Linked DNA regions of Homo sapiens. The protein of the gene in region 2 purifies or fractionates together with the protein of the main gene of each other region. This does not show direct contact. Each region holds a gene or a part of one and is shown on either strand. Other genes may lie near its edges.

Region 1 (3,815 bases), on a different chromosome or scaffold from region 2:
GACGCCATCTCACGCCTGCTGGAGGTGCGTGTGATCCCAGAGCAGGGTCTGGCCTGGCACCCCCCTCCTCTCGCTCAGACACCAGGGTCGTGCGTGTGTGTGTACACTCGTACATGCACGTAAGTCCGGTTACCCCTGGGGGTTGGTGTGGCCCTGCCGTCTCCCCACCATGTGAACTGCCTACTGGCCTGGGGTGGCTGTGGCTCCCCAGGGCCCCGCACCACTCAGTGGGTGCTTCCAGACAGTGACAGGAGGGCCGTCATCAGAGACCCTCAGGTCTCAGTACACAGCCTCCACTCTGAGCACGTGTGTTTTCCCTGACCTGGCTTTGAGCAGCTCAGGCACCTGTTGAGGAGTCAGCCCTTAGAGACGACAGTGTTTTACTCCCTCTGCCAGACCGCCTGCCCCACCTAACGTGAGCAGCTCTGGGTTCTTGCCCTGAGAGCTTGGGGTTGACATTGAGGCCTCTCTTACCCCTCACTGTGCCATCCCTGGTGGGCCTGGACTGAACAAGGCAGAGATGCCTGGGAGGGAGAAAGGAGACTGCGATTGGGTGGTGGCTGGGTTGGTGTGTAAGGCCTGAGGCAGTGTCCTGCGCGTGGTGCTACCTTTTGGGGCCATCCCGGAGTCTCTGTGGGACTGAGCAGGCAGAGGAGTGTGGACCTTGGACCTAGGCCACGGGGGGACCTGCACTCAGCTCCCCACTGTTGGCTGTGTGGCCTTAGAGGTTATCTTTTTTTTTTTATTTTGAGATGGAGTCTCGCTCTGTCGCCCAGGCTGGAGTGTAGTGGCGCGATCTCCGCTCACTGCAAGCTCCGTCTCCCGGGTTCACACCATTCTCCTGCCTCAGCCTCTCGAGTAGCTGGGACTACAGGTGCCCACCACCACGCCCAGCTAATTTTTTGTATTTTTAGTGGAGACGGGGTTTTACCGTGTTAGCCAGGATGGTCTCGATCTCCTGACCTCGTGATCCACCTGCCTCGGCCTCCCAAAGTGCTGGGATTACAGGCGTGAGCCACCGTGCCTGGCCTAGTTATCTAAGCATCTTAGAGCTTCTGGTTCCTTGTGCAGAAAGTGGAAATGCTGATTCCTGCCTTACAGGGAAGTTGTGAGGCTTAAATGAGTCATTTATTTCAGTGACTTAGCATGGGGCACAGGGTTTGGGGGAGTACGGGAGTCATGGTTTGTGATGGAGGTGACCCACAAAGCACAGACAGCAGTCCCTTTTTCTCTCTAGCGATGCTCATTGTCTTAAAGTTGACGCGGTCTCATTGGTGCTAACAGAGTCACTCAGCTTTGTCATGACCAGTGTCAGCTTGCTCTGTTGTTTTCTTGTATTTTTTACTGGTCTGTGTGTTTATGTTTAAGGTGAGTTTCTTGTACACAGAATGTAGATGTAGTTGGGTCTTCTTGTTATCCAGTCTAATGGGTTTTTTTAATTGGAATTTTTAGCCCATTTTAATTTACTGTTACTATTGATGTGGCTGGGTTTAAGTCTGTCATCTTGCTCTTTGTTTTCTCTTTGTCCCTTTGATTTTTTTTCCTTTCTTTCTTTTCTTTTTTTAAAAAACAAGTGTTTTTAGTATTCTGTCTACTGTGAGTTGAGCTGTACATCTCTGTGTTGTGTTTCAGGGGTTGCTGGGGGCTATAATCATCTGACTTGAAATTACATCACCCTGTTGACACCAGAAGAGCCTTACGGCAGTGTGTGTCCATTCATGCCTTTCCTGTCCTGTTACTGTCACACATTTTATTTTTACGTATGACATAAACACCCAGTATGGTTTTTTTTTTTTTTTTTTTTTTTTTTTTGAGAGATGGAGTCTCCCTCAGTCACCCAGGCTGGAGAGCGGTGGTGCGATCTCGGTTCACTGCAACCTCTGCCTCTGAGTTCAGGTGATTCTCCTGTCTCAGCCTCCCAAGTAGCTGGGATTAGAGGCACCCACCATCATGCCCGGCTAAATTTTTTTTGTATTTTTAGTAGAGACGGGGTTTCACTGTGTTGGCCAGGCTAGTCTCAAACTCCTGACCTCAGGTGATCCGCCCGCCTTGGCCTTGCAAAGTGCTGGGATTACAGGCGTGAGCCACCGTGCCCGGCCCTGTTTTTGTTTTAAATAGTCAACTTTGTTTTAAGGAAATTAAGAAAGAAGGAAAAAGTCTTCTATTTTTGCCATTTATAACATTCTTCATTCTTTCAGTATAATCTGGTCTGGTTATTATTTCTCTTCAGCCTGAAGAATTTTTAATATTTCTTGTAATGCAGAGCTGCCAGTCACAAATCCCCTCAGCTTTTGTTTATCTGAAAACATCTTGGTGCCTTTATTTTGCAAAGGGCATTTTCTCTGGATATGCATTTCTAGGTTGACAGCTGCTTCTTTTTTTTTTTTTTTTTTTTAATTCAGCAGTTAAACTGATGTCACTTTAAAAGATCTCATTACTAGGCTGGGCGCAGCGGCTCACGCCTGTCATCCCAGCACTTTGGGAGGCTGAGGCAGGTGGATAACCTGAGGTCAGGAGTTCGAGACCAGCCTGGCAAATATGGTGAAACCCCGTCTCTACTAAAATATAAAAATGAGCTGAGCATGGTGGCGGGTGCCTGTAATCCCAGCTACTCAGGAGGCTGAGGCAGGAGAATCGCTTCAACCCGGGAGGTGGAGGCTGCACTGAGCTGAGATCGCGCCACTGCACTGCAGCCTGGGCGACATGAGTGAGACTCTGCCTCAAAAAAAAAAAAAAAAAAGATATTACTTTGTTTTCTGGCCTGTATTGTTTCTGCTTAGAAGTTGGTGTTGATTCTTATCCTTATAAACTGTGTATAATGGCACCCTTTGATTCTCTGCCTTAAGATTTTGCATTTAATTTTGGCTTCAGCAATTTGACCATTGTGGTTTTTGCTTTCGTCCTGCTTGGGGCTCTTTAAACTTCTGGGTCTGTGGGATGATCATTTTTGTCAAATTTAATACATTTCAAGCCATTGCTTCTATAAATTACTTTTTCTGCATGATCTCTCCCTTTCCTTCTGGAACTTTATTGTCCCATACGTTGCTGAAGCTCTGTTTGTTTTTTCTCAGTCTTTATCTTTGCAATTCATTTTGGATGATTTCTGTTGGCTTGTCTTCAAGTTCACTACTCTTTTCTTTCTTGTTTTTAATATACTGAAGCCCATCAAATGAATTTTTTTTTAATTTCTTGAGACAGGGTCTTGCTCTGTTGCCCAGGCTGGAGTGCAGTGGCACAGTCATGGCTCACTGCAGCCCGAACCTCCCAGGCTCAAACAATCATCCTGCTTCATTCAGCCTCTTGAGTTGCCAAGACTACTGGCGTGGGCCACGTGCCGGCTACTTTTTTTTTTTTTTTTTTTTTTTTTTTGTAGAGATGGGGTCTCCCTATGTCACCCAGGCAGGTCTCAAACTCCTGGGCTCAAGCAGTCCTCTCACCTTGGCCTCCTAAAGTGCTGGGATTACAGGCATGAGCCACCACACCCGGCCCCATCTAATGAATTTAACGCTTTTTATTGTAGAGATTCCCCATCTGATAAACCATTATGTCCATCTTTTCTTTTAAATCTTGAAACATAACTTAAAAATATATATAAAGATGGGGTCTTGCCATGTTGCCCAAGCTGTTCTCACACTCCTTGGGTCAAGCGATTCTCCCTCCTCGGCCTCCCGAAGTGCTGGGCTTACAGGCGGGAGCCACTGTGCCCTGCCTGTGTTGTCTTTCTTTAAGCTTAGAGTCTTGGGTTTTATTCTCGCAGGTAGGTAATGAGCTTGTGCGTCAGCTTGGTCTGTTTGAAGCTTGTTTCTAAGCTTTGT
Region 2 (3,815 bases):
TCCCCACTGCAGCTCATGTTGATCTTTCCCGGAACTGCCAGGCTTGAACATTTTACCACTGCAAATGTTAGGTACACAGGCAGAGTTTCAGAAAAATCTACTGGAAAACTTCCAAAACTTGCTTAAAAGTCAACAATGAATGTAAAGTGTAAGCGCTACTTAGTTTTCAGCATGTAGGAAATTAGGACCAAACCCCTTTGGGGCAATCTAGGTTCAGAAACTTTATGAAGTATTTGACCTGTACCCTAAAAAAGTCTGCACTCAATTCTACCTTGGCAGGAAGGAACCTCTTCTGTCCATTGTCCCTGAGATGTGCACTCAAGTTGAGTTGATCCATGTAATTCAAATCCCTCCTCACAGCTGAAGGCACAAGAGGACTTGTAGGTGAATTCTCCAATAGGGGAATGAGCACACCTCACCAAACCCTTCGGGGGCTGGTGGACAGCATCGCATCTCACAGCTGGAACACACGAGAGAGCACTTTAGAAGTTTGTTTGCATCTCCAGCAATACGTTTCCCAAGGTAACCAAGTTCCCAAGCTCTTCAATAGTTCTTTTTATCTTAAAATAAAATAAAAACAAAGACTGTACCTTCACATGTGGGCTTCTCGTTGTCCCACTCCCCTGTGGGGCCACATTGGAGCCTTTTGGATCCCTTCAACACAAAACCCTGCTCACAGGAGAACTCACAGCTGGACCCATAACGGAAACTGCCAGAAGCACTAGGAAGACAATTCATGTAGCCTCGCTCGGGGTTGGACAAGGCTGTGCACTGGAAAGCTGAGACATCAAAATGATGGTCAGAAAATATTGCAGTGGAACTAGAGAGTACTTGGCGTTTGTTGAGTGAACCCAGTTCATTCAAGCAACACTTGGAGAACTGAAGATTCTTTATAATTCCCTGGACAAATGGGAAGATGGCTGTGTTTTCTTTGAATTTCAGCCCCCTCACTGATCATGGCACTAATTAAAAGACTAATTAATCAGAACATTAGTTCCTGAGCACTGTTCTTCTAACACACAAAATAAATTATGGTCCAAGGAAAGATTTCACGCAGTCTGAGGACAACATATGGGTCATGGATGTTTATAGATGGTGCCAAAAAGAAAGAAAAGAAAGCACCCCTATAAAATTTGTCTGTTTTGCAGTTTGGTTTTTGTGTTATGTTTTGCTACTGGAAATCATTCTGTGCTGGCTTTGGCTAGGACAAGGCCAGTGCCTGATAGTAAAAACTGCTTGTTTTCAATATCCTTGCTCTCACTTTAAAGTGAATTAAAATTTACTGCTTATATATGCATCAATACTATCTCTGTAGCTGACACCATGCTTGAAACAGTCTCATCACTGCTAATTATGAGCCATTTCAGAAGACAGGTGTGATGAGAGTTTTACATTCAAATCATGTTCTCATTATTCTGCTTTCCGAATTTTCTAATATGATTCCTTTAGATTAAGAATTCTGTCTATTCCATGCTAATGTCTACAAAGTTTTATCAGCACATCACAGTTAAAAAAAAACAGCAAAGAATTCATTCTTAACACATATGATCCTTTCCCTGGCCAAACATTAGTTCTTTTAAATGAATCTCAAAGATACGAGGGTTGCTCATCAAATCTGATTTCTATAGTTAAAGTGGGTATTGGTTTTTTTTTTCACTGTCCAAGTTTGAAGATGGTTGTTCTTTAAGAAAGTATAAATCGAAGGATCTCAAGCTTACCTTCACAAACTGGGATTTGCTGTGTCCACTGCCCTTGAGTGGTGCATTCAACCTGGGCTGGTCCCTGCAACATGAAGCCTTCCTCACAGGTGAAGTTGCAGGATGATTTGAAGGTGAACTCTCCAGCAGGGGAATGGCTGCACCTCACAGAGCCATTCTGAGGCTGGCGGACGGCCCTGCATGTCACAGCTGTAACAAATATACGCATTGATATTAGCACGGCCTAGAATTAGCTTGCCCATTTCCAGTATGGGTTGAGAGAAAGAATGTTCACAGTAAGTCTCCATGTGGAACAACTCTACCTTTACACGTTGGCTTCTCGTTGTCCCAATTCCCAGATGAGGTACACTGAAGGCTCTGGGCTCCCATTAGTTCAAATCCTTCTTCACAGTCAAATGTACAGGTTGTGTTCCATGGGAAGCTTCCAGGGTTTTGGAAACATTCCACGAACCCATTGGCTGGATTTGTCACAGCATCACACTCAACCACTGAGGATTTTAAAGAGCACCATGAATTTTACAGAAGAATGATCTTTTCACTTCCTATTGAGCTGGGTGCCTAACAGAGTGAGGAAGCTGCCTTCAAAGGGTAGATCCCAAAGTCCTATGTCAATTCTTAGGGACATGCACAGCCAGAATAAAAGCTTTTATTCTTTTTCATGGATATTCTATCTTTTCTGATTTCCACTTTGCCTATGCTGAGTGGTCTCTAATCTATGTTATCATTTACGTGAGGTAAAAATTTAAAAAAAATAGATTCCAGATTAGGAGTTATGACTAGTACTGACATACGTAGGCTATTCATTTATTTTAGCCCATCAGAGCCTGAAGAACTGATTTTTCTTTTTTTGGCCTCTGGTTCAGAAAGATAAAATTAAGAGAGAAAAAGAGATACTAAGACTGCTTGACTATCATGGTCTTAAGTTAGTCCCATGGCTTGGAAAAGTTAAACAGGGAAACAAGATGAGAAATCCATTGAGATTTCTAGAGCTTTATTGTTTTATGGTCTCCCTTACAAATCACCAGAGCCTCAGAAACACCCATTTCAAGCATAGAATAAAAAAACCTCTCTCAACCCAAGCAGGTACTGGGTTGGCAATATACATTGGCTGAGAGAACAAATTGTATTAAAAACAAAAACAAAAAAAAAACTTTCCCTGAAGTTTTGAAAATGTAAGTTGAATCAAAAAACAGAAGCAATGAGGGATGAGTTACAGAACGTTCTGTGCATTCTCAGAGGGATTTACCATTGCAGGCTGGAATAGGAGCACTCCATTCTCCAGAGGACATACACTGCATGGTCTCCATGCTGCTTGGCAGGTAACCCCTATCACAGCTGATAGAGCAGGAAGAATTGTAGCTGAAGTTTCCCAGTGGGTGACTGCAAACCAGGCTTCCATGCTCAGGGGATTCCAGGGCTGTACAGTTCACAACTGAAAAAGAAACCCAAATCAGTTCTGCTCATCTCTCACCTTTAACAGATAAGAACACTGGAAACTAGAACTACAGTTTGGTTTTTTTTTTTTTTAGTTTAAAAATTTATAAAATTTCTAATGGAATTTGTAAAATTGACTGTAATTCTACCCCTTTTCTTTTATTCAAGAAAATGCTGATCCATAACAACAACAACAAAAAAGCAGTGATGACAACCATAAAAAAGAAATATTGAGTGATATGGGGAGAGTAGTGTAATTGTGTTTACCTCAAAACTGTTCAAATTATATGAACAAACACAGCAAACTTAGGTACCACAACAAATTTCTTGTTACTTTTCTCACAACTGCTAAAAATACTACAGTAAGCTTCCAACCAGGATGAGAACCATTCACAAAGCTATATTTCAAATTTAAGTACTAGAATACATTACAAATTTTAAAACCCTAATGCTGCACTGTCTACTATAGTAGCCACTATCTGTGTGGCTACTCAAATTTAAACTTGAATTCGTTGAAATCAAATAACATTTAAAATTCAGTTCCTCAGTGTCACCAGCCACATTTCAAGTACTCAATAACCACATGTGGCTCATAGGTACACACTGGAAAACACAGCTATGGAACATTTCCATTATCACAAAAGCTCTACTGCACAACGCTGT

What was found.
Region 1: the proteins of SELE (region 2) and SBF1 purify together in Homo sapiens (affinity purification with mass spectrometry; 2 studies listed by BioGRID and IntAct, with this or other methods). This does not show direct contact.

The regions. Positions count from the first base shown.
Region 1 is NC_000022.11:50,450,721-50,454,535, reverse strand, and holds part of SBF1 (myotubularin-related protein 5), read left to right. Parts: coding exon 1-24; intron 25-3,815. UniProt on the Homo sapiens protein: Acts as an adapter for the phosphatase MTMR2 to regulate MTMR2 catalytic activity and subcellular location. Promotes the exchange of GDP to GTP, converting inactive GDP-bound Rab proteins into their active GTP-bound form.
Region 2 is NC_000001.11:169,727,468-169,731,282, forward strand, and holds part of SELE (E-selectin precursor), read right to left. Parts: intron 3,151-3,815; coding exon 2,965-3,150; intron 2,207-2,964; coding exon 2,021-2,206; intron 1,908-2,020; coding exon 1,719-1,907; intron 780-1,718; coding exon 591-779; intron 461-590; coding exon 272-460; intron 59-271; coding exon 1-58. UniProt on the Homo sapiens protein: Cell-surface glycoprotein having a role in immunoadhesion. Mediates in the adhesion of blood neutrophils in cytokine-activated endothelium through interaction with SELPLG/PSGL1. May have a role in capillary morphogenesis.